Homo sapiens: one gene and its partners. The protein of the gene in region 2 purifies or fractionates together with the protein of the main gene of each other region. This does not show direct contact. Each region holds a gene or a part of one and is shown on either strand. Other genes may lie near its edges. The genes, in order: XPOT, SLC60A2, PSMB2, ARCN1, SKIC3, FASTKD1 and XPO5.

The links.
Region 1: the proteins of SLC60A2 (region 2) and XPOT purify together in Homo sapiens (affinity purification with mass spectrometry; one large-scale study listed by BioGRID and IntAct). This does not show direct contact.
Region 3: the proteins of SLC60A2 (region 2) and PSMB2 purify together in Homo sapiens (affinity purification with mass spectrometry; one large-scale study listed by BioGRID and IntAct). This does not show direct contact.
Region 4: the proteins of SLC60A2 (region 2) and ARCN1 purify together in Homo sapiens (affinity purification with mass spectrometry; one large-scale study listed by BioGRID and IntAct). This does not show direct contact.
Region 5: the proteins of SLC60A2 (region 2) and SKIC3 purify together in Homo sapiens (affinity purification with mass spectrometry; one large-scale study listed by BioGRID and IntAct). This does not show direct contact.
Region 6: the proteins of SLC60A2 (region 2) and FASTKD1 purify together in Homo sapiens (affinity purification with mass spectrometry; one large-scale study listed by BioGRID and IntAct). This does not show direct contact.
Region 7: the proteins of SLC60A2 (region 2) and XPO5 purify together in Homo sapiens (affinity purification with mass spectrometry; one large-scale study listed by BioGRID and IntAct). This does not show direct contact.

The regions. Positions count from the first base shown.
Region 1 is NC_000012.12:64,410,658-64,414,860, forward strand, and holds part of XPOT (exportin-T), read left to right. Parts: intron 1-4,203. UniProt on the Homo sapiens protein: Mediates the nuclear export of aminoacylated tRNAs. In the nucleus binds to tRNA and to the GTPase Ran in its active GTP-bound form. Docking of this trimeric complex to the nuclear pore complex (NPC) is mediated through binding to nucleoporins.
Region 2 is NC_000006.12:111,275,893-111,280,762, reverse strand, and holds the end of SLC60A2 (sodium-dependent glucose transporter 1), read right to left. Parts: 3' UTR 758-4,870; downstream 1-757. UniProt on the Homo sapiens protein: May function as a sodium-dependent glucose transporter. Potential channels for urea in the inner medulla of kidney.
Region 3 is NC_000001.11:35,631,524-35,635,726, forward strand, and holds part of PSMB2 (proteasome subunit beta type-2), read right to left. Parts: intron 15-4,203; exon of another isoform or gene 1-14. UniProt on the Homo sapiens protein: Non-catalytic component of the 20S core proteasome complex involved in the proteolytic degradation of most intracellular proteins. This complex plays numerous essential roles within the cell by associating with different regulatory particles.
Region 4 is NC_000011.10:118,581,969-118,586,171, forward strand, and holds part of ARCN1 (coatomer subunit delta), read left to right. Parts: intron 1-1,210; coding exon 1,211-1,390; intron 1,391-1,840; coding exon 1,841-2,046; intron 2,047-2,511; coding exon 2,512-2,676; intron 2,677-4,203. UniProt on the Homo sapiens protein: Component of the coatomer, a cytosolic protein complex that binds to dilysine motifs and reversibly associates with Golgi non-clathrin-coated vesicles, which further mediate biosynthetic protein transport from the ER, via the Golgi up to the trans Golgi network.
Region 5 is NC_000005.10:95,548,156-95,552,358, reverse strand, and holds part of SKIC3 (superkiller complex protein 3), read left to right. Parts: intron 1-1,708; 5' UTR 1,709-1,778; intron 1,779-3,643; 5' UTR 3,644-3,799; intron 3,800-4,203. UniProt on the Homo sapiens protein: Component of the SKI complex, a multiprotein complex that assists the RNA-degrading exosome during the mRNA decay and quality-control pathways.
Region 6 is NC_000002.12:169,531,823-169,536,025, forward strand, and holds part of FASTKD1 (FAST kinase domain-containing protein 1, mitochondrial), read right to left. Parts: intron 1-4,203. UniProt on the Homo sapiens protein: Involved in the down-regulation of mitochondrial MT-ND3 mRNA levels which leads to decreased respiratory complex I abundance and activity.
Region 7 is NC_000006.12:43,544,901-43,549,103, forward strand, and holds part of XPO5 (exportin-5), read right to left. Parts: intron 3,561-4,203; coding exon 3,361-3,560; intron 2,808-3,360; coding exon 2,708-2,807; intron 2,554-2,707; exon of another isoform or gene 2,416-2,553; intron 1,853-2,415; coding exon 1,671-1,852; intron 1-1,670. UniProt on the Homo sapiens protein: Mediates the nuclear export of proteins bearing a double-stranded RNA binding domain (dsRBD) and double-stranded RNAs (cargos). XPO5 in the nucleus binds cooperatively to the RNA and to the GTPase Ran in its active GTP-bound form.

The DNA of each region.
Region 1 (4,203 bases), on a different chromosome or scaffold from region 2:
AGGCAGACATAAATAAGCAGTTATGATAGGTTATGTCTTAAGTAAAATGGTTACATGACAAGAATCCATTATAAAGTGCTGGGATAGTTGGATAAATGTAAACAATTAAATATAATGTAGCCTACAACTATAATCATGACTATAGCTGAATGATAGAAAAATATAAAGAATGAGCCTATAATTAATTTTTTTTAAAGACGTGGGCATTTGGAACTATAGGGTAAGTGGAAAGGAAAGAGGCATTTTCTTTTTACTTTTCATAGCAAAGAATACTTTTTATAAATGAGCTAAATGAGGTTAACAATCTCACTAAAAATTATAGCAGTTTTTATTCTTATTTTAAGAAAAAAATCTTTTAAAGCAGTAAAAAACAATCCCAACTAGTTTCTAATACAGTACCATGTGCATGTCTCTGCTACTAAATAAGTAACGAGCCCTTCAGATACAGGAAAATAATAGGAATTGAGATTTAAGTATCTGGCTAATTACAAGATACCTATCAAACAAGTTAGGACATCAAAAGACATTTAAAATCCATGTCTTCTGTGTGTAAACAAATCTTTCTTGTCATAGGGTTTTATGCTACCTACCTTCAAACATAGTTGAAGTATCATAGATCTTTACCTTTAGTCTAGCTTGGTATTGCATGCTTGTAATTAAAAGCCTTTGACTGTATGTTTAGTTATTAAATGGCCTTTACTGTTATTTTTATGTGCCTCTTGAAATCTTTCATTTCTTAAGTTCCAGCATCCAATTTTTGGATGAAAGAGGCATTTTCTTTGCCTCTTAAGTTCCAGCATCCAATTTTTTTAAATGTGCCATGATTTCTTTTTCAGAAAATTAAAACCAATACATTATTAGTGGTTTTAATACAGAAGCTCTGCTTTTTGTCAGTAAAAATGGGTTCTGTCACATACGTGTTTTAAGCATCCAGGTCCAGGCATAATTCAGTATCCATTTAGCCAATCTGAATAACAATTTATTAGGATGAAAGGGAAGAAATCTTAAAGTGAATTCTGAAAGCCCTTTTGTTGCAGTTCGGGAGTAGTGGAAACTTAATTCAGTTTGGTGGTGAGAAGAATGACTGTCTGCCAACCCCAATTGCTCAGTTGTCTATCTGTAATTCTCTGTTTTTTACATGGGCAATAAAAGTTGAACTGACTCTTGTCACATAGAGTCAGTCAACCATTAGAAAAAAGGTATGGGGTAGAACTAGGTGGTGAAAGCTAGGACTTGTTTGTCAGTGTTGTAGAATTTTGTTTTTTTAATTGTTAGTAATGCATAGATTCAGAATACAAAGGCTTTGTTTAAAAACTAAAAACTTCCACGTTATCTCTCCTCTCCTTCCTCTCACCCCTGCCCCGCCCCCCGCCCTTTTTTTTTTGAGACAGAGTCTCACTCTGTTGCCCAGCCTGGAGTGGAATGGCACCATCTTGGCTCACAGCAACCTCCAACTCCCGGGTTCAAGAGATTCTCCTGCCTCAGCTGGGATTAGAGTAGCTAGGATTAGAAGCACACACCACCACGCCTAGCTAATTTCTGTATGTTTGGTGGAGACGGGGTTTCACCATGTTGGTCAGGCTGGTCTCAAACTCTTGACCTTGTGATCTCCCTGCCTCAGCCTCCCAAAGTGCTGGGATTACAGGCATGACTCACCGCGCCCAGCCTCCTCCTTTTTAAAAAATAAAACACTCGTCTTTGGCTTAAAACCTGTTATTATTTAAAGAAAATGGTATGTCATGACATTTCTAGCAGCTGAAACCACCTCTCCCCTCTTTTGTAAGTGAAATATTAGGTGGTAATGCAACATACATGATTAACTTCTACCTTGTCCTCTGGCCTCTGAGATATTCCTAAAGAATACCCTATGTTTCATGGACTGCTGTTAGAAACAACTAAGCTAGTACTATCTTTTATAGCTGCCTGTGTTCTTATAGTCTTAACTTCTAAAGAGAGACATTATTTACTCTGGGCTGTTTTCCAATACCAACAACCAACTCTCTTGATTTCTGTGGACACCAACTGGGTGTCCTACAAATCAATTCAATTCTGACACTACCAGGATTAGCATCACATCCCACAAGTTATGGGCTCGGTCTTACAAACCGCCCCCACTTAAGACACTAATTGAGTCCAGAACCTCTCATATTTCTGATGATGGAGTAGCCTACAGAACTTAGAAAAACAGTTGACTTTCTTGTGCTGATGAAGGATCCACCTCATGAGCAGCCACATGGAAGCGATGCATAGGGCAAAGTATAGGGGAAGGGGCACAGAGCTCTTGTGCCCTCTCTAGGAACACCACCCTCTCTAGGAACACCACCCTCTCAGCATCTCGATGTGTTTGCCAACCTGGAAGTTCAAGAGTTTTTATAGAGCTGAATCTTGAGTCCCTTCTCCCCTTCCCAGAGGTTGGTGGTTAGGGTAAAAGTTTCAACACTCTAATCAGTTGATCTTTCTGGTAACCAGCTGTATCCTGAGGCTGTCTAGTGTTCCCACACCAAGTTACCTCATTAACATAAACTCTGTTGACCCCGAAGTCTCTAGTGATCCTTCCACCTTAGCCTCCCAAGTAGTTGGGACTGTAGGTGCACGTCACCACTTCTGGCTAATTTTTAAATTTTTTGTAGAGACAGGGTCCCACTATGTTGCCCAGGCTAGCCTTGAACTGCTGGCCTCAAGTGATCTTCCAGCCTCAAGTGATCTTCCCACCTTGACCCCCCAGAGTGTTGGGATTATAGGTGTGAACTGCTGTGCCTGGCCCAAAGGACTCATTATAAATAACAAAAGACGGTCCTGTCGCTCAGGAAATTTTCCAAGAGTTTTAAGGGCTCTGAGCCAGCAACTGGCTGCAAAGCCCAAATGTATTTTTTCGTTATACCATATATTTAATATTATATTTGGTGATCTTCACCTAATCATCTTCATTTACCTGGTCTTCTGTCAGTGGGAGCAGCCATTGAGACCATGTATGAAAACCCATTCCCTCATTCATACAGTTACATAGTATAGGAAACTATCACCTAAATATAAATACAGTGGCTTTGATCTGTAACCCAAAGAAAAAAATAACTTTACATCTCGATGACCCAGTGTGTGTGTATATATTTATAGGTACATATGCACATAAATAACTAAAACAAGTTACAGAAAGTAATATTCTTGCTAGGGTATAGTACAGAATATCTAATATTCTCTATTTCATTTTTAAAAATTATTGTTCAGGACCCATAAACTGATTTCATCACTAGTGGGAGACACCACCGTTTTAAAAATATTTACCAATTGAAATTAGGTTTCTCTAAGGCTAATGTTTCTTTTACCTCATGTCAGCTTTTGTTTCATACATAATTGCTGTCAAATCATCTAGCAGTGCTTCCAGTTGATGTGCAATTTTCTTGTCTATTGGAGATACTTGTCACAAGATGTTCACTACTATTTGTCCATTGCCATGTGTGAAACCTGCATCTGGTGCAACATGCTGATGGGAAGAGTGCCTGAAGTAACTCCCATTTTCCCAACAGTTTGGTAGAGAGCGTATGGACTTGGTGCTGCATCCATTCTAGAGTACTCTTGCTCCTTGTTGGCACTGTTACTTGTGATTACAAGGCCCTGAATTCATAAACTTAGAGATAAAAAACTTCCTCGAGCTTTGACCTTTTCAGTTACTTAATATTTTTCAAAATTCATATCATGCACTTGTACTCCAATTTTAATCTCTTTAGGGAACTTACATGATATAATTAAAGACTTGAAATACTCTCCTGTGTAACAGTAGATCAGATAAGGTACACAGTATGTTTTATCTTTTATAATCACCGCTTTAATAGCAGATGTGCTATTAAATAGGAAAAGTGCCCTTCACGTGCCATTTTATAATTGCATATTATAAAATGATCACACCCTTAACTCATCCTCTGCAATTTCTCAGTAGTATGGCACTTGACAAAGCACTTGCTCTCATTCTTCATAATAACCCCATGAAGGCTGCGGGGCATTTTTGTGTTGTTGCTGCTGTAAGAAAACAGGTTTGATTATCTAACTGATGGAATTTATATTTATTTAACCTATTTTTAGGAATGACCCCAAGTTGCATATATTCGGAAGCCTGCATTTAATGTTTTAACTGTTTTTCTATTAAGTTTACTGATTTGTTATAGGTTTGCAACTCTCAGAATATTTTGTTTATATTAGCAGGGCATT
Region 2 (4,870 bases):
AAACAGTATGGAGATTCCTCAAAAAACTAAAAATAGAACTACCATATGATACAGCAATTCCACTGCTGGGTGTATATCCAAAGGAAAGGAGATTGGTGTATCAGAGAGACAGCTGCACTCCCATGTTTATTGCAGCAATTCACAATGACCACATATGGAATCAACCTAAGTGTTCTTCAACGGATGAATGGATAAAGAAAGTGTGGTATATACACTATGAAATATTATTCAGCCATAATAAAATGAAATCCTATCATCTGCAGCAACACGGATGAAACTGAAGGACACTATGTTAAGGGAGTTATTTCACTTAACAGAAAGACAAATATTCCATGTTCTCACTTAGATGTGGGAGCTAAAAAATTAATCTCATGGAGGTAGTGAGTAGAATAATAATTACCAGAGGCTGGGAAGGGTAGGGGACAGAGCAGAGGGCAGCAGGTTGGTTAGCAAATACAAAAATACAGTTAGACAGAAGGAATAAGTTCTAGTGTTTGATAGCACAGTAGAGTGACTACAGTTAACACTAGTTTATTGTATATTTCAAAATAGCTACAGGAGAAGATGTGAAATGTTCCCAACACAAAGAAATGATAAACATTTGAGGTGATGGATATCCCAACTACCCTGATTTGCTCATTACACACTGTATGCATGTATCGAATTATCACAGGGAACCCATAATTATGCATAGCTATTATGTATCAATTCAAAAATCAGTGAAACAACTGAAACATGAATCTTAAACCAACATCACTATTGTTATCAATATTTTATTCAAACAAGTTTTTATATGGTACAAAGCTATGTAAACAGTGAGTAGTCTATTTTTTTTGTTTGAGATGGAGTCTCACTCATGCAGTGGTGTGATCATGGCTCACTGCAGTGTTGAACTCCTCGGCTCAAGGTATCCTCCCGCCTTGGCCTCCCAAAGCACTGAGATTACAGGTGTGAGCCACCACGCCCAGCCTAGGTGAGTAGTCTTAAATTCAGATGTAATAAACCTGCAAGATCATTCCTACTCTGTTAAGCCCCCCAAATCAAAATTGACTGGTGAAAACCTGCCTAGAAGGGCAACCTCCAAAAGATCTGAGCTTTTGTTTTAGGAAGGACTTCAAATAACAGCAATATTTCCTGCACTGGACCAAGCAGCAGTGGAGTGAATAGAAAACATGAGATCTCTTCCTCTCCAGTTTTCCTTTAAGAAAGTGCACAGGCTAGGCGCGGTGGCTCATGCCTGTAATCTCAGCACTTTGGGAGGCCGAGGTGGGCGGATCACGAGGTCAAGAGATCAAGACCATCCTGGCTAACGTGGTGAAACCCCGTCTCTACTAGAAATACAAAAAATTAGCTGGGCACAGTGGTGGGCGCCTGTAGTCCCAGCTACTCAGGAGAATGGCGTGAACCCGGGAGGTGAAGTTTGCAGTGAGCTGAGATAGCGCCACTGCACTCCAGCCTGGGCAATAGAGCGAGACTCTGTCTCAAAAAAAAAAAAAAGAAAGAAAGAAAGTGCACAGAATTTCAAGGATCTACAAAAGTGGCATAACTTAATCAATCTGTAAGTAAGCCTAAGAAAAAACCACGGTCATTAGTAGAGGATCCAGTTTTGTGCACTGATCAAAGCAGTGGTTCTCAATCTTGGCTGCACATTACAATTACGGGGGATTGGGGAGGAGGAGTTACTTTTTTAAATATCCATACTCAGGCTCCACTCCAGACCAAATTGGTATTTAAGTTAAAATGCTGGGCATCAGTCATTTTTAAACACTGCCAGGTGATTCTAACAGCAGCCAGGTTTGAAAACCACTGGAGCAAAGGTTAATCACTTGGGCAGAGGACAAGAACACATTTTGCAATCACGTTTTTCCCTTGGGTCCTCTTTCCTTCTGGAGCTTATGAATTCTGGAGGGTGTAGAAGCAAAATGTCACTTTCCCTTGCTTCAGTAAGACTAAGAACTTCCTATATCATTCTATTAGTCTGTTTTCATGCTGTTGATAAAGACAGACCTGAGATTAGGTAATTTACAAAAGAGGTTTATTGGACTTACAGTTCCACATGGCTGGGGAGGCTTCACAATCATGGCGGAAGGCAAGGAGCAGCAAATCACATCTTATATAGATGGCAGCAGGCAAAATGAGGGCTTGTGCAGGAAAACTCCCTCTTATAATAACCAAAAGATCTCGTGAGACTTCCTCACTATCACAAGAACAGCACGGGAAAGACTTGCCCCCATGATTTAGTTACCTCCCACCAGGTCCCTCCAACAACACATGGGAATTCAAGATGAGATTTGGGTGGGGACACAGCCAAACTATATCAATCACCATCAGAAAAGAAAGACGTTGCACCCTGAGACAAAACAAAAATGATAGGGTCATCTAACTGTTGATGATCTAAAAAACAATAAAACCTTGAATGTTTCCCATAAACCTGGACTCCCTAAGAAATTTTATCCTTGGTTTTTCCTGTACTACATCTGAAGATTTGCCATAACCTTTATGAATACAATAATTACATGAGGCAGTTACTGTTTTTCACCGTGAACAGTCTAATGCAAACTCAGAAACCTTGGCAGTTTTTAATTTTTTCCTTCAAATACTTACGTTTTTTATTAGGCAAGCCAGTCATTCTCTTGCTCTCTTTGCAGGTAAACTTTTCCTTTTCTAAATGCTTCTGTCTCTGAGTATTTCTTCAACAAGGGTAAAGATTCATAGAGTGCTTGGACACAGAACTGGATACTCTGCTCCTGGGGGCAGAGTTCACTGCAAGTGATAAGGGAAAGAGCTGAGAAATGAGAACCTGCTCTGTCAGCCCAAGGGTCTTTGGAGCTGTAATCCAAGATCTAGTTTGACCATAAATATATTCTCTTGGCTGGACTGAATAAATCTCAAAAGTTGGTGTCAGATTCCTTTGTTGTAGGCTTCCTAAGCCTTCTTGCCTATATTCACCTCAACTACACTGTGCCGAGTAATTTCTACAAAATTCTAAATCAAAAATTACCCCAAAGACATAGACAAGTACTAGAAATGAACAAACAAAAACACACACCAAGGAACCAAGAGTTTAGCTACTTTCCTTTTCTAAAACTGGGTAAAACCTATTACAATAAGAGTTACTGGCTCTTCCGCTGATAGAAATTTTGTCATGGCAAATTTTACTTAAAATAGAAAAACATAAGCTTGGTGAAGGCAAGGATCTCATCTGCCTTCTCCTATTATATTCCCAGGGCCCTGGTTACTGAACATGGTAAATGCTCAGTAAATATCTGTTAGATAACTGAAATGCATGAATTTGGAAAACTTTCTGGTCCGCACAGATGAGAACTGTAATAATATCTCTTGCAAACTGGGACTCCTCTTAGAGCTCACTCAAGTAGAAATCTTACCCTCTTAGGAGAAAGCTTTCTTTCTTGGTAAAAATCAAACAATCCACAAACCTTGTCTAACACGCTCTTCCAAAAAAGTCTGCAATTTGGTGTGATTTTGTTTTTCCAGTTCTGATGCAGATGAACCAGGCCATCCATCCCAGGACCTGCCAATTTTCATCCCATTCAGGTATCGATTACCAATATTTATGAAGCCTAGCACTTCTCTGGTACAGAGCAGACAGTGGACATTCCCTTTTGATGATAACAGCTCCTGCATGCAGAGTGGTGGGAGTAGGAGGGTAGAAGTAGCCACTTTCTGGATGGGAGCAATGTCATCAACCCAAAGGGAACCCCTTCATAGGCTAACCAGCAACTCCTGAGGCAAGGCCCAATAAGGGCAATGGCATCTACTCAAGTCAAACAGGTTTCCTCCGGAATCTGGACCAGAGATACACAGAGGAACTCCTGAGGCAAGGCCCAATAAGGGCAATGGCATCTATTCAAGTCAAACAGGTTTCCTCTGGAATCTGGACCAGAGATATATAGAAGATGGGCCAGGAATGCAGAAAACGAGTGGTCCCAAGGAGGGGCAGAACTGCTGTGAGAGAGGCAGAGAGCAGCCCATTTATCGTTCTCAGACCACACACCTTCTGGTTCCAAGGTGGTTCAGAGGGATCTCTGTAAACGAATGAGCACAAAACACAGAACCATTCATTTGGCAGAAAACTGAGATCAAAGCTGTACCTGCTACTGCAAGGACAAAAAAGAAAGTTCATTAATACTTAGTCTACAGAGCCTCACATGCAGTAAGCCCTCAAGCACTTGTGCAATGACTGAACAAAAATTGCAAGCAGAGATAACAAAACTTTGAGGTAGTTGCCCAACATAACTTTTCTTTGAGTTCACTTATTCAGTACATGGGTGCTACTGATATGATCATAATGCGCCTAAAGTCTGAGATAATACCTTAAAAGTATGTGTTTATTCTCTTCCTAAAGCTACTCTCTTCTGGAAAAACTTGATTAAGAAAAAAATCTAAGACAAAAAACACAAACACAACAAAATATTAAAAATAGAATTACCATAAGATCCAGCAATTCCACTTATGGGTATATATCTCAAAAGAACTGAAAACAAGATCTCAAAGACACAGTTGTACACCCACATTCACAGCAGCGTATTAACAACAGCCAAAATGTAGAAGCAACACAAATGTCCACTGACAGATGAATAAACAAAATATAGTATGTATATACAATGGTGTATCATAGACTTAAAAAGGAAAGAAATTCTAACACATGCTACAACAAGGATGATCCTTGAAGACATTATGTTAAGGGAAAGAAGCTAGTAATGAAAGGACAAAAACTGTATGATCCCACTTATATGAAGTACTCTGAGCAGTCAAATTCATAGACAAAGTAGAATGGTGGTTGACAAGGGCTGGGATGGGGGCGTAGAATGGCAGTTACTGTTTAACAGCACAGAGTTTCAGTTTTGCA
Region 3 (4,203 bases), on a different chromosome or scaffold from region 2:
AGCTGGTTAGTACTGACAGCAATTCTTGGCCACAAACAGAACCAGTTCTATAGTGGAATGAAACTTCTAGCAGCCTTGCTTAAACTATTCATTCATCAACACACTGTGGTTTCTGCCGTAGAAGGAAAGGAACACGAATACACAAGAAGTGAAAAAAAAAGAAAGGCGTCTTAGATGCCAATCTTTTAAAAGTTTATTTTAAAAAGGATATTGGGGGCCAGTCACAGTGGCTCATGCCTGTAATCCTAGAGCTTTGGGAAGCCAAGGTGGGAAGATCGCTTGAGCCCAGGAGTTTGAGACTAGCCTGGGCAACATAGTGAGACCCCCATCTCTAAAAAAAATTTTTTTTTAAATTTCTAGGCATGGTGGTACATGCCTGTAATCCCAGCTACTTAGGAGGCTGAGTGGAGAGGATCAATTGACCCCAGAAGTTCAAGTGAGTTATGACTGTGCCACTGCACTACAGCATGGGTGACAGAGCAAGACCCTGTCTCTAAAAAAACGAAAACAGGAACAAAAAGGATATTGGGAAAAGAGAGGCTAGAAGTTAGGACTACCTCAGAGTCATAGTTTATTAAAAAAATATTTTAAATGTTACTTTATTAAGAAGTATAATATGACTTTCAAAAGTATAAGCCACAGAAAAAGAACATTTCCATCATTCTGCAGTATTTTTAAAAATAGAGTATCTCAAGTGTTAAAACTTCAAAAATAAAAGTTGTCATACCAACAAAGGTACAACCCAGAGGAATAGCATCAGGTGTGCATGTAATAACGCATTCACTTTGGAGCTTAATCCCCCTGTAGAATGGGACCAGTGCCAAAAGGCACAAGAATGATCCATAACTCAGTGGGCCCACACAGAAAATGTCAGTATGGAAAGACACACAGCAGTGTGGTTAAGTAATTGCTTACAACATTTCAAATACCACTGTCAAATTAGGAGAGATTCAGATTCAAATCCTAACAAATATTTATTGAGCAGCAACTATGTTTCAGGGTCTATGCTGAGTGTTTTCACATGTATTATTGTACTTTATCCTCACAAGTCTATTAGTGCATATTAAATCATAATGAAAGCAATCCTTGGCCAGGTGCAGTGGCTCATGCCTGTAATCACAGCACTTTGGGAAGCGGAGGCAGGCAGATCACTCGAGCCCAGGAGTTTAAGACCATTCTGGGCAACATGATGAAACCCCGTCTCTACTAAAAATATAAAAATTAGCCAGGGGTGGTGGTGCACACCTGTTTTCCCAGGTAGTTGGGAGGCTGAGGTGGAAGGATCACCTGAGCCTGGGAATTCGAGGCTGCAATGAGCCATGATTGTGCCACTGCACTCCAGCCCAGGCGACAGGAGTGAGACCCTGTCTCAACAACAACAACAAAAATAATAATAATAATTTAAAAAAAGAGGCCAGGCACAGTGGCTCACACCTGTAATCCCAGAACACTTTGGGAGGCCCAGGTGGGTGGATCACCTGGGGACAGGAGTTTAAGACCAGCCTGGCCACCATAGCGAAACTCTGTCTCTACTTAAAATACAAAAAATTAGCCAGGCATGGCGGTGCATGCCTATAATCCCAACTACTCAGGAGGCTGAGGCACGAGAATCACTTGCACCCAGGAGCTGGAAGTTGCAGTGGGCTGAGACTGCACCACTGCACTCCAATCTGAGCAACAGAACGAGACCCTGACTCAAAAAAGAAAAAAAAAAAAAAAGAAGGAACCTAGACAAGTGGGAATACTATTCAATTCTTTACTTAACCCCCTAAACACCACTGAAGATCTGACCATTATCCTAAAGGCAGAAAAGTCATGCCTGATTATCTGCATATAGATTTTCTCTTTCTTTCCCTTATTTTAGCTCAGTTCTTTAACTTATATAAGAATTACTATATAGAGTTACATACACAAAACTGTACTTGGCAGGTAATTTAAGGGTCTTTAAGGGCAATTTTAACCAAACACAGTTTTTGTCTGTGCACTGACTTTAGACCCTAAAACCCAGTAACAAACAACTCTTGCTACTCTTGTTCACTCTTCTCCCTCTCTCAGGACAGCCAGTGAAGTCATACAGTACCTACTGGACTTCAGAAGCATTACTGACATACTTCATTTGTTATGCAGGCAAAAAGTGGAACCACTGGAAAAAAAAGCAGAATTCTTGAAATATTCTAAACCTGCATAAACCTAAGTACCATGTACTTTATGTTCCTGAATGTCAGGACTAAGCCTTATTCATCTTTGAATTCTCTTAAGTATTAAGCAGAATGCTTACCATAGAAGAGGCCCTCAAAAGTATTTATGGAATTGAATACAAATGCTAAATCCACTGCCCAAACTATGTGAATAGATCTTTGGTCATTTTACACATGCAAGTATATTCAAATTAACTTCCTTCATAGCTCCATATTATACCAGTGCAGTGTATAACGTTGTTATTGAACTGTGAGGTAAGTGGAAATAAGGTTTTCTCTGCCAGACCACCACTACAAACATTCCTGGATCAGAGGCCTAGTGGCTAGTATCGTTTGCTAGGGAGGTTTTCCCAGTGGATAAGAGTTCATTAGCCCCAGAGAGAGCTCACAAAATACTTCACAAAAGTCTTAATTATCTCTCTAGAAGGAAACCTACCAGAGAGTAAGGCAGAACCCTTTTATGGCACAGTAAATACTTATAGTTAGTTACACAATGCTTTAGGTTTACAAAATATTTTCATATGTATTATTCATTAGTATTATAATTCATTTCAGAGATAAGGAAAATAAAGTCCCAGAGAAGATAAATGACTTATCACATAAAAAATAGTAAAGCCAAGGTTTACTTAGGTTTTTTGACGCTGAGATTCAGATTTTTTTGTTTCTTTGTTTTGAGACAGGGTCTCACTCTGTCGCACAGGCTGGAGTGCAGTGGCACTATCATGGCTCACTGAGACCTTGAACTCCTGGGCTCAAGTGATCTTCCCACTTCAGCTTCCTGAGTAGCTGGGACTATGGGTGTGCACCACTGCACCCAGGTAAATATTTTTATTTTTTATAGAGCCAGGGTCTTGCTTTGTTGCCTAGGCTGGTTTCAAACTCCTGACCTCAAGTGATCCTCCCATCTCAGCCTCTCAAAAGTGCTGGGATTACAGGTGCTAGCCACTGTGCCTGGCCAGGTTCAGATACTTTTAAACTCAAACCACATCCTCTGAGATATCTAACACTTAAAAAGTCTGATACTACCATCCCTACCTCCAAGATGGTGTTGGGTTTTTTTTTTTTTGGTTGGTTTAAAAAAATTTTTTTTAGAGACAGAGTCTTGCTGCCTTCCAGAGTACAGTGGCACAATCATAACTCACTGCAGCCTCGACCTCCTGGGCTCAAACGATCTTCCTGCCTCAGCCTCCTGAGTAGCTAGGGCTATAGGTGCATGCCACCACACTCAGCTAATTTTTAAAAACTTTTTTGTAGAAGGCCGGGCGTGGTGGCTCACACCTGTAATCCCAGAACTTTGGGAGGCCGAGGTGGGCAGATCATCTGAGGTCATGAGTTTGAGACCAGCCTGACCAACATGGAGAAACCCTGTCTCTACTAAAAATACAAAATTAGCCAGGCGTGGTGGCACATGCCTGTAATCCCAGCTACTTGGGAGGCTGAGGCAGGAGGATTGCTTGAACCTGGAAGGCAGAGGTTGCGGTGAGCCGAGATTGTGCCACTGCACTCCAGCCTGGACAACAAGAGTGAAACTCCATCTCAAAAAAAAAAAAAATTTTTTTTTTTTTTGTAGAGATGAGGTGTCACTACATTGCTCAGGCTAGTCTTAAACTCCTGGTCTCAAGTGATCCTCCCACCTTGTCCTCCCCAATTGCTGGGATTACAGGCATGAGCCATCATACCAGGCCGATGGTGTTAGTTTTATCTATCAGCTATCAGTGTTACAACAGTTCTCTGCTCTAGGATTTTTGTAGAAAATCTTTTATGAAGGATTAGAATCTTTAGGGTCTAGACAACTTCTTAAACACAGAAAACTCTAATGAAAATATGGGCTGGGCGTGGTGGCTCACGCCTGTAATCCCAGCACTTTGGGAGGCCGAGGTGGGCAGATCACAAGGTCAAGAGATGGAGACCATCCTGGTCAACGTGGTGAAACCCTGTCTCTACTAAAAATACAAAAATTAGCTGGACGTGGTGGTGCGTGCCTGTAGTCCCAGCTACTCAGGAG
Region 4 (4,203 bases), on a different chromosome or scaffold from region 2:
TTTTAAGACTTTATGCCAAAGTCTTGCTTAAAATGAAGGCTAAGGCCAGGTGCGGTAGCATGTGCCTGTAGTCCAAGCTACTCAGGAGGCTGAGGCAGAAGGATTGCTTGAGGCCAGGAGTTCAAGTGCACAGGCATTATACTTTAGTGTGGGCAACACAGCAAGACCCTGATTCTTTTTTTTTTAAAGACGGAGTCTCGCTCTTGCCCTGGCTGGAGTGCAGTGGTGCAATGGTGCAATCTCGGCTCACTGCAACCTCCACCTCCCAGGTTCAAGCAATTTTCTGGCCTCAGCCTCCCGAGTAGTTGAGATTACAGATGTGCATCGCCATGCCTGGCTAATTTTTGTACGGGGTTTCACCATGTTGGCCAGGCTGGTCTCGAACTCCTGACCTCAGGTGATCTGCCTATCTTGGCGTCCCGAAGTGCTGGGATTACAGGCATGAGCCGCTGCACCCGGCTGTAAGAATCAGGGTCTTGGGCGTGGTGGCTCACGCTTGTAATCCCAGCACTTTGGGAGGCTGAGGCGGGTGGATCACCTGAGGTCAGAAGTTTGAGACCAGCCTGACCAACGTGGTGAAACCTCGTCTCTACTCAAAATACAAAAAAATTAGCTGGGCATGGTGGCGGGCACCCATAATCCTACTACTCAGGAGGCTGAGGCATGAGAATTGCGTGAACCCAGGAGGTGGGGGTTGCAGTGAGCCGAGATCGTGCCACTGCACTCCAGACCGGGTGACAGAGTTAGACTTTGTCTTAAAAAAAAAAAAAAAAAAAAAATCAGGGAGTTAGGCTGGGCGCAGTGGCTCACGCCTGTAATCCCAGCAGTTTGGGAGACTGAGGCAAGCGGATCACCTGAGGTCAGGAGTTCAACACCAGCCTGGCCAACATGGTGAAACCCCGTCTCTACTAAAAATACAAAAATTAGCTGGGCGTGGTGGTACACACCTGTAGTCCCAGCTACTCCGGAAGCTGAGGCAGGAGAATCACTTAAACCCAGGAGATGGAGGTTGCAGTGAGCCGAGATGGCACCACTGCACTCCAGCGTGGGCAGCAGAGCGAGACTCTGTCCCAAAAAATAAAATAAAGACTAGAAGTAGCTAATAAAGGGATTTAGGTTATTGAAATTTATGTACTCTAAAGGATAAGACTTGGAAATATAGCTGCTGATAAATTCTAAATCTTTCTTTTTTATTGGTGTCCACGCTTAGATCCCTGAATATTGCCGAGCCTTAGAAGAGAATGAAATATCTGAGCACTGTTTTGATTTGATTTTTGCTTTTGATGAAATTGTCGCACTGGGATACCGGGAGAATGTTAACTTGGCACAGATCAGAACCTTCACAGAAATGGATTCTCATGAGGAGAAGGTGTTCAGAGCCGTCAGAGAGGTAAATAGGATCTTCTCTGGGACTACCTGTTTGTATGTCTTTCTCTTAGGCTTCACTAATCTCATTTTCCTATTTTTACTTACTAATGTAGACTGTATTCAAAACTATGTCCAGGCTAGGCACAGTGGCTCATGTCTGTAATCTCAGCACTTTGGGAGGCGGAAGTGGGAGTATCACTTGAGTCCAGGAGTTCAAGACCAGACTGGACAGCGTAGTGAGACCCTGTCTCTATAAAAAGTAAAAAAAAAATTAGCCAGGCATGGTAGCACGTGCATGTGGGTCCCAGCTACTTGGGAGGCTGAGATGGGAGGATCACTTGAGCCCAGGAAGTTGAGGCTGCAGTGAGCTGTGATTGTGCCACTTGCACTCCAGCCTGGGTCACAGAGTGAGACCCTGTCTCAACAAAAACCCAAAAAAAAAAGCTACATTAATGTATGTCTTTTTCTGTAGACTCAAGAACGTGAAGCTAAGGCTGAGATGCGTCGTAAAGCAAAGGAATTACAACAGGCCCGAAGAGATGCAGAGAGACAGGGCAAAAAAGCACCAGGATTTGGCGGATTTGGCAGCTCTGCAGTATCTGGAGGCAGCACAGCTGCCATGATCACAGAGACCATCATTGAAACTGATAAACCAAAAGTGGCACCTGCACCAGCCAGGTATAATCCAGTGTACTTTAGAATACCAGGTGAAGGGTGTATATGTGTCTATCTTTGAAGTCATAATCTGATTTCTTGGAAAGCTGTAAATAAAGAAGGACTTGATGAAGTAAGATATGATGTTACATTTGGCCACATACAATATGAGGATAAAGAAGAAATCTGAATGTGGTGTTTTTCCTTTTGTATAAAAGAGAGTTATAAATTATGTCATGACCTCAGTTTCCTATGAGAGTTGCCTTATTGTGGGGAGGAAAGGGCTATTTAATGCTTTATGGAATGTAGATTTTTAATCTTGATGTTCATTGATTGATTTTAGGGGAAATCTGTGAATTACCCAAAATTATATACAAAATTTTGTGCACAGGTGTATTTCTCTGGACGGGAGATACAAAATTTTCATCAGATCATGTGTGCTTGTAAAAATAAACCTTTGGGTAATGAATTTCAAATTCTTCCACTTAGGCCTTCAGGCCCCAGCAAGGCTTTAAAACTTGGAGCCAAAGGAAAGGAAGTAGATAACTTTGTGGACAAATTAAAATCTGAAGGTGAAACCATCATGTCCTCTAGTATGGGCAAGCGTACTTCTGAAGCAACCAAAATGCATGCTCCACCCATTAATATGGAAAGGTAAGTAGGAACTTTGAGTAAGAATTCAAGCTTTGAATACAGTCCACATAATTTTTTAAAAATCTTATTTCAGTGTGCTATAAATTCTTTCTCTGTCTTTTAATCGTTCCTGATTTAAAAGATTTATTCAGAGCAGATTCTACATATTAACATAAGATCGTTTTTGGTTTTGTTTTGTTTTATTTACTTATTTTTTTTTGAGATGGAGTCTCACTCTGTCACCCAGGCTGGAGTGCAGTGGTGTGATCTCGGCTCGCTGCAAGCTCTCCCTCCCAGGTTCACGCCATTCTCCTGCCTCAGCCTCCCGAGTAGCTGGGACCACAGGCGCCCACCCCTACGCCCGGCTAATTTTTTTGTATTTTTAGTAGAGATGGGGTTTCGCCGTGTTAGCCAGAATGGTCTCGATCTCCTGACCTTGTGATCCGCCTGACTCAGCCTCCCGAAGTGCTGGGATTACAGGCGTGAGCCACCACGCCCGGCTGTTGTTTTGTTTTATTTTTTTGAGACAGGGTCTTACTATGTTGTCTAGGCTGGCCTCCAACTCCTGAGCTCAGTTAATCTTCCTGCCTCAGCCTCCCAAGTAACTGGGATACAGGCATGCGTTGCTGCACCTGACCTTTTCCTTTTTCCTTAAACCATGATTGGGGGCCCTCAGCCACCTATTTTCTATGAAGTTTAGAACTTTCCTTTTACAGCTAAATTAAAGTTACTTGTAGTCACACCTGGTATATAGCGTATCTCTTAGAATGCACTTGAATTAGGGGACTAGAGCTATGGTGACCCCACACTGTATTTTGGCATGACTTTTTCTAATTAAAGTCTAAGTAGAACCAATCTTTAATCCAAAACTTGTAGATATCTTTAATAGCAAATTAATATATTTTGCATTTTTATTTTATTTATTTATTTTTTTGAGATGGGGTTTCACTCTGTCACCCAGGCTGGAGTACAGTGGTGCAATCTCAGCTTGTTGCAACCTCTGCCTCCCAGGTTCAAGTGATTCTCCCACCTCAGCCTCCCAAGTAGCTGGGACTACAGGCATGCACCACCACGCTGGGCTAATTTCTGTATTTTGGTAGAGATGGGGTTTTGCCTTGTTGCCCAGGCTGGTCTCGAACTCCTGGACTCAAGCAATCTGCCTGCCTCGGCCTCACAAAGTACTGGGATTACAGGCGTCAGCCACCATGCCCAGCCATCTTTTGCAGTTTAAATATTTGAAGCCAGTATGGAATATTTTGATTCATCTCTTATCTCAGGGCTGTGGTACTGGTTGGTGACATTTTTAAGTGGTAGTTATCAAGTTCACATATTCGTGACTCAGATTTCTCGTCTTGAAGCCAGACCTTCTACTGTTGCTGATGGTTTTGAGGTCAAGTGAAAGATAATACCAGGAGGATACCTTTATCAGGTGTGCATAAAAGAGGAGTATTTACTCTTTTTCTTTCTTCTTTCCTTTCTTTCTTCCTTTCTTTCTTTCTTGACAGAGTCTTGCTCTGTCTCCCAGACTGGAGTGCAATGGCACGATCT
Region 5 (4,203 bases), on a different chromosome or scaffold from region 2:
AATAAAAATAATATTTGTTAAGTTGCAGTTGAGTAGCTCAGTTTGGAGGTTTGGAGGAGGGAGTGATCCCTGTTGTAGGCTGTACTCTAGTATTCATGTAGTGTAGTAACTAATATGAAGAGGGTACTCATGTTTGATGATAGCTGTCTTGAGGAATACAGATGCTTCTTATGGTGGGTTACACCATGATAAACCCATTTTAACTTGAAAATATTGTACGTCAAAATGCATTTAATATGCTGATAAGCCCATCGTAAAGTCAAAAAATTGTAAGTTCAACCATTTGTAAGTCAGGGGCCGTTTGTATAGGTAAGAAGTTTACTTCTTGAGAGAGCAAGGAAGAAGGAGGTTGCAGGACGGTTGGGGATTTGAATGTGTAGGGAAAATTTTTAACACTGAGTTATCACACTAGTTGTTTTAGGAATGGCAAGTAGCAAAGTTGATTGAGAGAATAATAGTAGATAGGACATTATTAGTATAGATTATGTCCAAGTACTCCATCTATGTGTGTATCAGGTAAGTGATGTAATTCTTACTTTACCAGTGAGGAAATGGGCTTTGAGTAATGAAGTCATGTACCCAAGGCCTAATGGCTTTGATCCTAGATCCATTTGATTTCCTAAGCTCACTCTCAACTAGGGTAAGCCTTGGTGGGTGGATATGACAGAGTAAAGGGGCTGACAGGATCTAGGGTACTTTGTAAGAACAGAGTTGAAGTGACTGAGTGATAAAACTAGATTGGGTGAGGAGGGCAGCCAAGTGTTAGCAGGGCTAAAGAAGCCAGTGAAATAGTCAAGTTTGTACTTTTTTTTCTTTTTTAACTATTATCTTACTTTCCTAAACATTGTTTGGATTACCATACTTTCTTTTCTTACCAGTAAGACTTTCTACTGTTGGAGTGACACTTCTATTTCGGTAGATCACTAATGAGTGTTTTGGTTAGGGAAACTTTTCATTCCTTGTTCATCCCTACCTGCCTCACCTAAACATTGTTTACTTCCTAGTTCTGAAGTAGCATGTTTTTTTTCACTTTATTCAGTTTTTCAAAACCACTTCCATTCTCTGCAGGGACCATTCTAGATTGTTTTTTGTTTGACAGAAGCCACTTCAGGGATGCTATCAAAATATCCTTAGAATTTGTAGATGTGTAGTTGTGTTACTATTTTTAATGACTATTTAAATGCATTGTTAACATTAAAAAAATTTCTCTGTTTTCATTAGATTACAAACTAATATAATTGTATTATATTATACTCCTTATGTTCCTTAGAGAAAAGTTCTATTCTAATATAATTAGGCTGCAAATTGGGTGTAAATAAGTACCCTTAGTTGTCTGTAGATGTCCTTGATTCAAAGCAAAAATGGCACAGAAATAGTAGATATTCTTCTTTGGCTCTATTTTTTTATATTGACATCAGTGTATTTTGGGTTTCTGAAATGGTTTCTCAAAATCCTTCTGATCTCTTGTAGAAGTTTCCTTTTATCATCTGAGGCCCAGGAATATAGTTTAGACCAATTCAGAAGTTTGGAGATTAAGAATAGTGTCTCTCTGGGAAAGAATAAAAATACTAAAAATTATACATAATTATTTCTCATGTTTTAAATTATGAATTATGAAAATTGATGCGTTAAAAAGTTTAGAAGGTTTTGGGTTGTGGGTGTCATCCTTTTTATATGATTGTCTCATACTTGTTTTTGTTTAATTTAGATGGAAAATGGGTAAGGAACAATCAAATTCAATTCGGGAAGAATATAGAGGTGGTAATAATTGGTAAAAGGTAAGTGTCTACAATGCTAAATAATAAATTGGAATCTATTTTTACTTAATGATTGTTTTTACTCATTCCTTTCAGAAGAAAGATTTAATGGCATAGTTTTTTTTTTTTTTTTAATGTCAGACTATGGGTCATTACAAAATACCTTTTGTTATTAGATTTAAAGATATCGTTTTTTTTCCTTTCTGTAATTAGCTTCCGTTGTCATTATCATTACTATTTATTATTATTGTTGTTTTAGCTTTGTGGAATCTTTGTATGAGCATATTGGAATATTATTTAAGGTTTCATAGCCTCAACTGGGGACATATATATCATACCTATATATGTTGTCCTTGAGGAATATCATTGCCTTTATGGCATGACTGTCACTTTCTAACTCTTTTTAAGTGCAGTTGTTGCCACTTTTTATTCTTGATTTATGTTGGATAAAAATATTTTGGGTTGGTAGTAGAAAAACTTGAGTGAAAACGTACAAAATGAATACTCTTATTTAAAAAAAGACAGTTGAGATTGAGGAGAATAGTGGGAGGAGAGGTATAAGGCGGAAAGAATTAATAGGGAGTTATATTGTGGAAGAATATTAAAGACATCTCCCTCTCTTGCAAGAGAGCTAGATGTTTCTTTGACGTGTTAGAAATCCTTACAATGAAGGGAAATATCCAAAATAGAGGAGTATGGGGTTACGTGGAATCATTTTGGGTAGTAGGTTTTTACCCTCGGAAGGAAAATGGGTTTAAGTGGTACCTAGTAGATGGTTGGATCTCAATAAGGGTTTGTTTAGAAAATTGGTGAATGGACGTTTCCCTTTCCCCTCAAAAATAAAAATAAAAATTAAAAAAAAAGGAAGTAGTAGTTTTTAGGGTTGAAAAGGGGCAGATTATTTTGTCTTTTTACAAATTAAACTTCTGAAACTTACGTACATATATGTGTGTATGCATGAGTGAGAGAGGACCTCAGTGCTAGCGTATTGTGTTAAATGTTGCATCAAATGAAGAAGGAATTGGAAGAGAATAGAGGGTTCCATTGTAGCATGAAGAATTGTAATTACATATGGAGACATACAGATACTGAAGGACATTTAATATTAGAATTGATTACCAAGAGAAAAATGGTGTTTGTTTCTATATAGTGGTCTTTAAAAACAACCTACTTAAAAATTACTAATGGCTTCCTATTTGCTGCTGTATTTAACTTCACACTTGTCTGTTTGACTTTCAGGATCTGTAATCTGAGGCTCTATTTACCTACCCAACCTAATTTTCTTCTGTTTAATAAGTCCCTTCTGATCCATTCAGCCTGGCTTTCTCACTGTTTCCTATACTTGCCACAACTCATTCCCACTTCTGTCACTTTGCTAATGCATTTGCCTCTGAGTAGAGCAATTTTCCTTCTTCACTCCATTTTTAAGTCTTGTCATCTTCTATTAATAGAAGCCATTAATAACATCACACCACACACCTTTCCTTCTCTAAATTCCTATTGCACTTCCACTCATTACCCTTAGTTTAGCATTTGATTATTGAATGACTTATATGTCTTAAGTCTTTCTCTTGATTTAGATTATATTCTTTATATATTTTTTATATCGTGCACAGCAAATAGCTTGGGGGCTGCATGTAGTTTAGTAGTGGTTGGTCCTGCCTTGTTTGTATACATACCCTCATGAATGTTGGGTGATAGAAGAGATGGTGAACTTCCTCCTTATGTAATGGTTGTGGTCTTTTGTTTGTTTTTAATTTGAGACTGTTTTTGTTCCTTTTCAATTTGGACATCTTTTGATTTTTTTACTTGAGTGTCTCTTTTTGTCTCTTTTTATTGATCTAGATCAGTTGTCATCATCCTTGATGTTATTTTCTTCTTTTTAGTCTGCAGGGTTTTTTTTAACCAAAGGAAACTGGTTTGAGAAAATTGTGAAATCAGCATTGAAATTTGTTACCTACTCCAATCAAGATTTGCAAACTACAAAAAAATCATTCTGAAGCTTTCACCTATAAATATATACCAAGATAATTTCAGATAAGGTAGTAGTTTCTAAAGCAAGAACATATGAAATATGGTGCTTTAAATTATATAATTATTGTAACTAGGCAAAAAAGTTACTTATCTGCCTATTTAGGGAATCTGGTTCTAGCTGTAGATAAATTGATTTTATGGTATCTTAATTTTTCTATTATTTTGAATCCTAACATTTTTTAAGTCAAAAAGATTAAAAAATATGTATCTAACTTCTCAAACTTCTTTGGTCTCATACTTCTGTGTTAGCTTCTTCTTTGGATATAAAGGACTGTCAGTGTACCATGTCAGTGATTCATCTTTTTGGTACATTTTACTCCCTTGAGCATCTGAAGCCTATAAATACTTAATATTTACCCCAGCTTTGTTTTACCTTTCTATGAGATTAGAGGAGCTGACAGAAAATACAAAT
Region 6 (4,203 bases), on a different chromosome or scaffold from region 2:
CATCTGAAAATTAATAAAGAAAAAGATACAAGCATTTATCCTGTCTTTTCTACATGAATTGTACATAAGAGTAACTAAACAGTTGATATGGGAAAGTCCTTTTTAGACAAATTCCAGCTAATAAATGTAGAAGGCATGATAGATGTAGAATATCGCTACTTTACCACCCCTCTGAATGATGGATTTAGGCAATGAGTGATCATTAATAACTGCTAAAATCAGCAGGTGAAAAGCTGACAGGGGAACTTTCTGTTGAATGAATCAGCTGACAACATACGAACCCACTGATGAGTCTTAATGTATAAAAGACAACCAGGCCAGGCACAGTGGCTCACACCTGTAATCCCAGCATTTTGGGAGGCCGAGGCAGGCAGATTGCTTGAGCTCAGGAGTTCCAGACCAGCCTGGGCAACATGGCAAAACCCAATCTCTACAAAAAACTTAAAAAATAAGCCAGGTGTAGTGGTAGCTACTCCGGCTGAGGAGGCTGAGGTGGGCGGATCCCTTGAACCTAGGAGGTCAAGGCTGCAGTAAGCCATGCTTGTGCCACTGCACCTCAGCCTAGGCAGCAGAGCCAGACAAAAAAAAAAAAAAGGAAAGAAAGAAAAAGAAAAAGACAACCAGCCTTGTGTGCCTCCTGAGAGGATGCAGAAAGAAGTACAAGCCACTTATGAAGTTTTTGGCCAAAAAGAAAAACCTAAAAAAAAAACCTAAAATCTAATCAAATCTCTAGATATCACTAATGGTTTACAGCAAACCCAGGTTTACAGTAAAAACATTAAAAACTATCAGATGACATTTTAAATGTTATCACAGGGCTGCAATTAGAAAAGTTCGAAATGTGGAAAAAAAAAACTTATTCTCAAATTTTAAGTTAAAAAAAGAAGTAGGAAAGGAAAAGTTGAACCAAAAACTGCAAACCAACCAAGTGGAATGTTAAGATCCCAATTTGGACAAACTATAAAATAAACATAAAAGACACTTAAAACAGGAAAAGCAAAGGTATAGGGGTGCAGTGCATGAGACGTATGAGGAATAGGTTCCACTGCCTTCAATCCTTCACCATTGAGTTCATTATAGTAGGCCAAATCTAACATTTCGATAAAATGTTAAATTTTATCTAAAATTTCCCATATCTCCCTACTTATGTTACATTTCCCATAATTCCCATAAATGTTCAATTTTATCTAAAATTTCCCATATCTCTCTACTTATGTGACATTTCCCATAATTCTACTACCTTCAATCCTTGATCATTGAGTTCATTATAGTATGCCAAATCTAACATTTCAATAAAATGTTAAATTTTATCTAAAATTTCCCATCTGTCTACTTACGTTAAATTTCCCATATTGCTGAACATTTCTTAAAAGATATTAAGAAATTATTATTAATGGTTATAGGATGATAAAGATGATATTGTTGTTATGTTTTTTAAGTCATTCTTATCTTTTAAATATACTTCCTGAAATGATGTCTGTGATTTGAAAAGAATCAGATGGAACTCTGGTGAAAAACTCAGGCACTGAACCATCTTTAAATTAATTATGAAAGATGAAATATATAGAATTCATTAAGAGAATGAATTCTAGAGCCAGAATGCCAAGCTCAAATCCTGGCTCTGTCATTTGCCAGGTATATAACCTTGGGCAATCAATAATGTTTGTGGACTTTAGTCTCCTCATCTGCAAATAATTTACATACTTCATAGGGATATAAGTTTACTATATGCATACACACACACAAGTACTTACGAAGTACTTAAAATGGTGTCTAACACATAATAAGCAATATATAAAAATAAACCTATTATTGTTGTTATATGAAATTGCAGCATTGTTTGACAGATGGACATACCAGCAAAAAAATCTTACAGATTGATTAAATCATAGCATACTCAATGAAATATGCAGTAACTAAAAAAGATGTTGTATAAGCATATCTGTTGGCATAGAAAAATATTCACAACATATAAAGTTATAAACTGCTATGATCTAAATGTGTCCCCCAAAATTCATCTGTTGAAACATAATCATCAATGTGTTAATAATAATAGTGGGACCTTAGGCCAGGCGTGGTAGCTCACACCTGTTATCCTAGCACTTTAGGAGGCAGAGGCAGGAGGACTGCTTGAGCTCAGGAGTTTAAGACCAGCCTGTGCAACATGGTGAAACCCCATCTCTACAAAAAACACAAAAATTAGCCTGGTGTGGTGGTGTGTGCCTGTAGACCCAGCTACTCAGGAGGCTGAGGTGGGAGAATCACTTGAGCTCTGGAGGCAGAGGTTGCAATGAACCGTGATCATGCCACTGCACTCCTGCACTGCACTCCAACCTGGGTGACAGAACAAGACCCTTTCTCAAAAAAAAAAAAAAAAAAAAAAAAAAAAAAGAGGCAGAACCTTTAGGAGACGATTAAGTCATGAGGGCAGAGCCCTCATTAATAAGATTAGTGACCCTATAAAAGAGCATCCTCTGTTGCCTTCCTGTCCCTTCTGCCATGGGAGGACACAGCATTCAAAGTACCATCTTGGAAGCAGAGGCTAGGTCCTTAGTAGATACCAAACCTGTTGGTATCTCGAGCTTGGACTTCCTAGCCTCCAGAACTGTGAAAAATAAATTTCTGTTGTTTTTTTTTTTTCTTTTTTTTTTTTTTTTGATACAGAGTCTCACTGTCGCTCAGGTTGGAGTGCAGTGGCACGATCCCGGCTCACTGCAACCTCCGTCTCCCGGGTTCAAGCGATTCTCCTGCCTCAGCCTCAGGAGTAGCTGGGATTACAGGCGTGCGCCACCACGCCCAGCTAATTTTGTATATTTAGTAGAGATGGGGTTTCACCATGTTAGCCAGGCTGATCTCGAACTCCCAACCTCAGGTAATCCGCCCGCCTCTGTCTCCCAAAGTGCTGGGATTACAGGCGTGTGCCACTGCGCCCGGCCAAATTTCTGTTGTTTATAAATTAACCAGTCTCAGGTATTTTGTTGTAGCAGCAGAAAAGGACTAAAACACAAACACTACAGAAGAAAACCTTTTTGTCTTTTTTTTTTTTAAGTTAGGAAAACAGACACCAAAAGCAAACAGCGGCTATATCATGGGTAATTTTTCTTTTTTGTTATCTTCCTTTTCTAGTTTTTCTATGTTAAGCATGTCTCATGTAATTTTTTTTTAAGAGATGGGGTTATATTCATATTGTTCTGAAGAAAAAAAGAAAAATATTAAAAAGAGATGGCTTCTCACTATATTGCCCAGGCTGGTATCAAACTTCTGGGCTCAAGTGATCCTCCTACCTCTGTCTCTCAAAGTAGCTAGGATTACAGGCTTGCACTACCATGCCCAGCTTCAATGTTTGTTTTTTGTTTTGTTTTGTTTTGTTTTGTTTTAGAGACAGAGTCTTGCTCTGTCACTGAGGCTAGAGTGCAGTAGCGTGACTGTAACTCACTGTAGACTCAACTCCTGGGTTCAAGAGATTCTCCCACCTCAGCCTCCTAATGGGACTACAGGGGCATGCCACCATGCCTGATAATTATTTATTTATTTAGAGACAGGGTCTTACTATATTGCCCAGGCTGGTCTCAAACTCCTGAGCAATGGGACTAGAGGGGCATACCACCATGCCTGCTATTTATTTATTTATTTATTTATTTATTATTTGTTTATTTATTTATTTAGAGACAGGGTCTAACTACATTGCCCAGGCTGGTCTCAAACTCCTGAGCTCAAGCTATCCTTCCACCTCAGCCTCCCAAAGTGCTGAGACTATGTGTATGAGCATGAGCCACTGTGCCCAGCCAATTTATGGATTTTTGTCACTCATACCCAACTCAATCCTGATTAACATAAAATCAAAGGAAAGTTGTGTTTTATAGCACAAGATGAGAGCATTAATGATTATCTAGTTCACCTTCCTGCCCAGTGCAAAAATCACACACATCTATCATCTGAATACTCAGCCTCTGCCTCAACATTACTTCTTCAGAAAGCAGTCAATAATTCTCATTATACCAAGTTAAAGTCTGCTTCCTTTCATTTTTACCATTTTGTTCATCTTTGAGATAGAGATATCTAGTTCTTCTACTTAACAATCCTTCAAACATTTTAAAACATTATGGTCCCCATAAGACTTCTATTTTTCAGACTAAACATCCTTTTTTTTTTTTTCAAGTAAGATTTATTGGGCTGGGCACAGTGGCTCACACCTGTAATCCC
Region 7 (4,203 bases), about 68 Mb from region 2:
CTCACTCTGTCGCCCAGGCTGGAGTGCAGTGGCGTGATCTTAGCTCACTGCAATCTCCGCCTCCCGGGTTCAAGCGATTCTCCTGCCTCAGCCTCTCGAGTAGCTGGGATTACAGGCATGTGCCACCATGCCCAGCTAATTTTTGTATTTTTAGTAGAGACAGGGTTTCATCATGTTGGCCAGGCTGGTCTGAAACTCCTGACCTCAAGTGATTGACCCACCTTGGCCTCCCAAAGTGCTGGGATTACAGGTGTGAGCCACCACACCCCGCCAAAATATTGTCTATTTCCACAGACATGTCCACAATGACAACTTTATCAGACACTCCAGCCCTCCAATTTGTCAACATTAACTTAAAATCTTTGGTTCTCAGGCTTCAGGTCTTGGGTGTCTATTCCCAGGAGAGTTTCACTGCGACATGAATAATTTGGTTTGCCCCGTTGAGACTGCTTTTACTCCTTGGAGAAGGGGCCAAAAAGTACTGAAACAGAGCTCTAACAATGTAATTTAAACATCCTGTGAGAGGCCAGGTGTGGTGGCTCACTCCTGGAGTCCCAGCACTTTGGGAGGCCGAGGTGGACTGATCACTTGCGGCCAGGAGTTCGAGACCAGCCTGGCTAACATGGCGAAGCCCTGTCTCTACTAAAAATACAAAAATTAGCCAGGAGTGGTGGTGCACACCTGTAGTCCCAGCTACTTGGGTGGCTGAGGCAGAAGAATCGCTTAAGCCTGGGAGGCGGAGGTTGCAGTGAGCCAAGATTGCACCACTGCACTCCCAGCCTGGGTGACAAAGTGAGACTCTGTCTCAAAAAAACAAACAAACAAAAAAAAAACCAATCCTGTGAGATACAAAAAGCACTCTTTGGCCAATAACTGAATTATATAAAAAAACCTATCTTTTCATTTAGAGACCATCCCTGAGTCATCAAATATCTATATCTAGTAACTGATAAGCCTATACTGGCCTACTTCCACTTGAATATATTAACTCATGTGATCTAAAACAGTGATTCTGAATGTTTAATGTGTATATAAACCACTGGGCATCTAGTTAAAATGCAGATTCTGATTTAGTATGTCTGGGGTGGGGCCTTGATTCTGCCTTTGAAATAAGCTCTCAGGTGATGCTAATGCTACTGGTCTTAGGACTCAGCTTTGAGAACCAAGGATCTAGCAAACTCAGATGAAAAATTTATAATTCCTTTGTTTAGCATGTTCAGCCAGCGGTTGTTTGGTTCATCTGAGCTCAGACTCAGTATTGATAAATTCAGATTAGCTCATATGAATACCACCTAGACAAGCATCATTATAGAAGGCAACTGCCCTGCTCCCAATGAGCAATTCCTTTACTAAAAAATTTAGACCAAATAAAACTTACAAGTAAAAATAGGGATGAAGTATAAAGAAATGGAAGAACAACAAAGAGGAGGCTCAAAATGGGAAAAGCCCTTTTGGGATTATCCCCTTGGGTTCACATGGAAATTAAGATTTATGCAAGTGAGAGCTGATGTTATTTTTTTTAAAACTGAGACACCCTCTAGAAAGAAATAAGACTTAAATCAATCCCTCATTAATACCACTAAGATATGAAGACATGTAAACAGACTAAACTTTTGAAATTTTTAAGGTAAAGTAGAAAACAACAGAGAAAAGCCATTATTCTGACTCACCTTATAAGCGCAAGCAAATTGTCAAGAAGTTTCAGAATCTGCTCTGTGCAGGGGTTACGGAAGATTGGATTTCCACTGGATGTATAACCCACCACAAATCCCCCAGCTTTGGCCTCTTCTAGGTCAGTGGGCCAGCAAGTTCGTTTCACCACACCCAGAATGCTGTATACACAAAAGCTCATCTATAGAAAAATAAGAATGACAGATAAATATTAAAAGGAAAAAAAAAAAAAGACCAAATACTGTTAGATATATTCAAGGTTCTGGCAAAAGTGACACAGAGGCCAGAGAGAATGAAATAATCCTCTGCTCCCCGGCAATCCCCCATCCCTTCCTTTAAGGTGAAGTCCAAGAGGGATCCTCTCACTGCCATTTTCAGGGCCAGTGGTAGGCTCTGGAAACTTCCCTTGCAGTAAGCTGTCTTTCTAGGAGCTGCAGTGACCCACCCACAGGACCCTGATGAGAAGGTGGCTTAGATACGATCCAAAACAAAGTGTTTAAAATGCCATCACTTCATCTTCTTTGAGTTGACCCTTATTGGGCCTTGACAGCTAGTGTCCTAATCCCCCCTCACGGTACTCTGAATCAACCTACTACTTGCCAGGTTAATTAATGGGACTTGTGCCATAATGGAGCCAGGAACAATGCTTATTTAAATAGCAAAGCACTGAAAAATCTCAGGTTTGCAAGTTAAGCCATCACTTAAGACTTTACATGCCAGAGAGCAATGGCAGGGAGGACTCACCCTGCTGACCAAGTTCTGACCTACTTCCTCATTACACCTTCAGTCTTCAGAGCTATTTAGAGATCCTTAAAGCCAAAATAATGACTTCATAGAAAAGACCATCTGCTCTGCTGTGGGAACTAACTCAAGAATTCAAGACTAAAGAAGAAAAGAAAGGAGAAGCTTAGGGAAGTGGAGACTCCCACGTTTCTCACCAGTATAGAAAAAACAAATCTATGAGAAACTTGACAAAAGACAACACCCTACTCCTACCCATGGCCAATGCCACTTCCCATTCCCAGGAAAGTCTTACTCGTGCACGGTTTAAGCCACACGGATCCTCCAGGCCTGGGTCACAGCTCTTCTGATCTGTACCCACATACGCAATGAAAGCATCAACATCTGACAGCACTCTGAAGGTTGGAGGGGGAAAAACAAGTTACATCATGACTTTAAACAAGGACAGTTTCTTCCACAGGAGTTAACAGGCTATCATTATTTGGCCCTTAAGAGCAGTTTTTATAGTGAGAGGAGTATAATCATACTAATTGTCAGTTGTCATTTGAAGGTTTAAATTTCCCTTCCCACTCCCAAATATTATTAGTAACAATTTAAGAATTAAACAAGAATATAATCTTCAAAATATAAAGAAAATAATTTCTCTACTGTGTGAGCACAGATAAGTGTCTGTGTGGTTGTATGGCCCTTCCTAGCTGTTCTCATTTTTCTAAATGTGCTGGTGCTGCAATGCAGACACCACAGGAGTCTCACTCTGTGCCCTCCCCACCCACAATCTAATTGAACCAGAGATTAAATTACAAAAGACTGCTTTTAGAGAACTTCAGATATCATGGATAATGCCATCACACTTCAATATCCTTAACCCCTACCCCACCCTGGGCCTAGCTCTTAAACCAAAATGGGTGCTTGAGTATAGTAAGAGTCAGGGCAAGGGATCTCCTTTACCTGTGCATGTCTTGAGAAAGCCAGATGCTGGCCACTGGTGCCATCAGCTCCTCTAGGAACACCTTCTGACGCTCGTAGTTCTTAAATTGGTTGCTAATGAGAACCAGGGCTTCCATGAGGGCACACTTCTCCATTTGTGTCAGGAGTAGCTCATTGGAGAGGAGTTGCTTCACATGGTTATAAAGCATGTCAAAATTGGGCTACAGATCAAAAAGAAAAAAAGCCAGAGGTGGTAAAGGTCTGATTTTCAAGGAGAGGTGGCTTACTCAAGGAAGAAAGAAGAAAACCAAAGCAGTCCCAGGAAAGTCAGGCCTATAAGGTTATTATTTGGTAATTCTGTTATATGTCTTTATTTTGCCTAAATAAGCAAGGCAATTTAGGCGGAAGATAGCTCTTGTCTTGAGTATTTGGATAACTGCACTTTCCCATACTACAACTGTGAAAAGATCAGCTTGTTTTATATATATATATAGATATATATGTATATCTATATATATATGGAGATAACTGCTGTGCATTCAGAGAAGAAATTTCTGGATAATTTGTAATCTGGAGTAATGTTAAATTTCTTATAACCCCATGCCCCAAAAAGGGTTGTGATTTGCATCTGCTTTTCTCAAGATCAGGCACATCATTTGGCAGTAGTAATTAAGATCATCACATAGTAAAGAGTTGTAGAATTATAGGGGTAAACTTAGTAATCTATATGGCAGAGAACTATTTGTATTTTGAAGAGAGATTACATTTGCCATCACATTTCTAACTATACTACTAAGTATACTAAGAAAACACCAATTCAAGAATGTTTATTTATTTATTTTTGAGATGGAGTTTCGCTCGTTG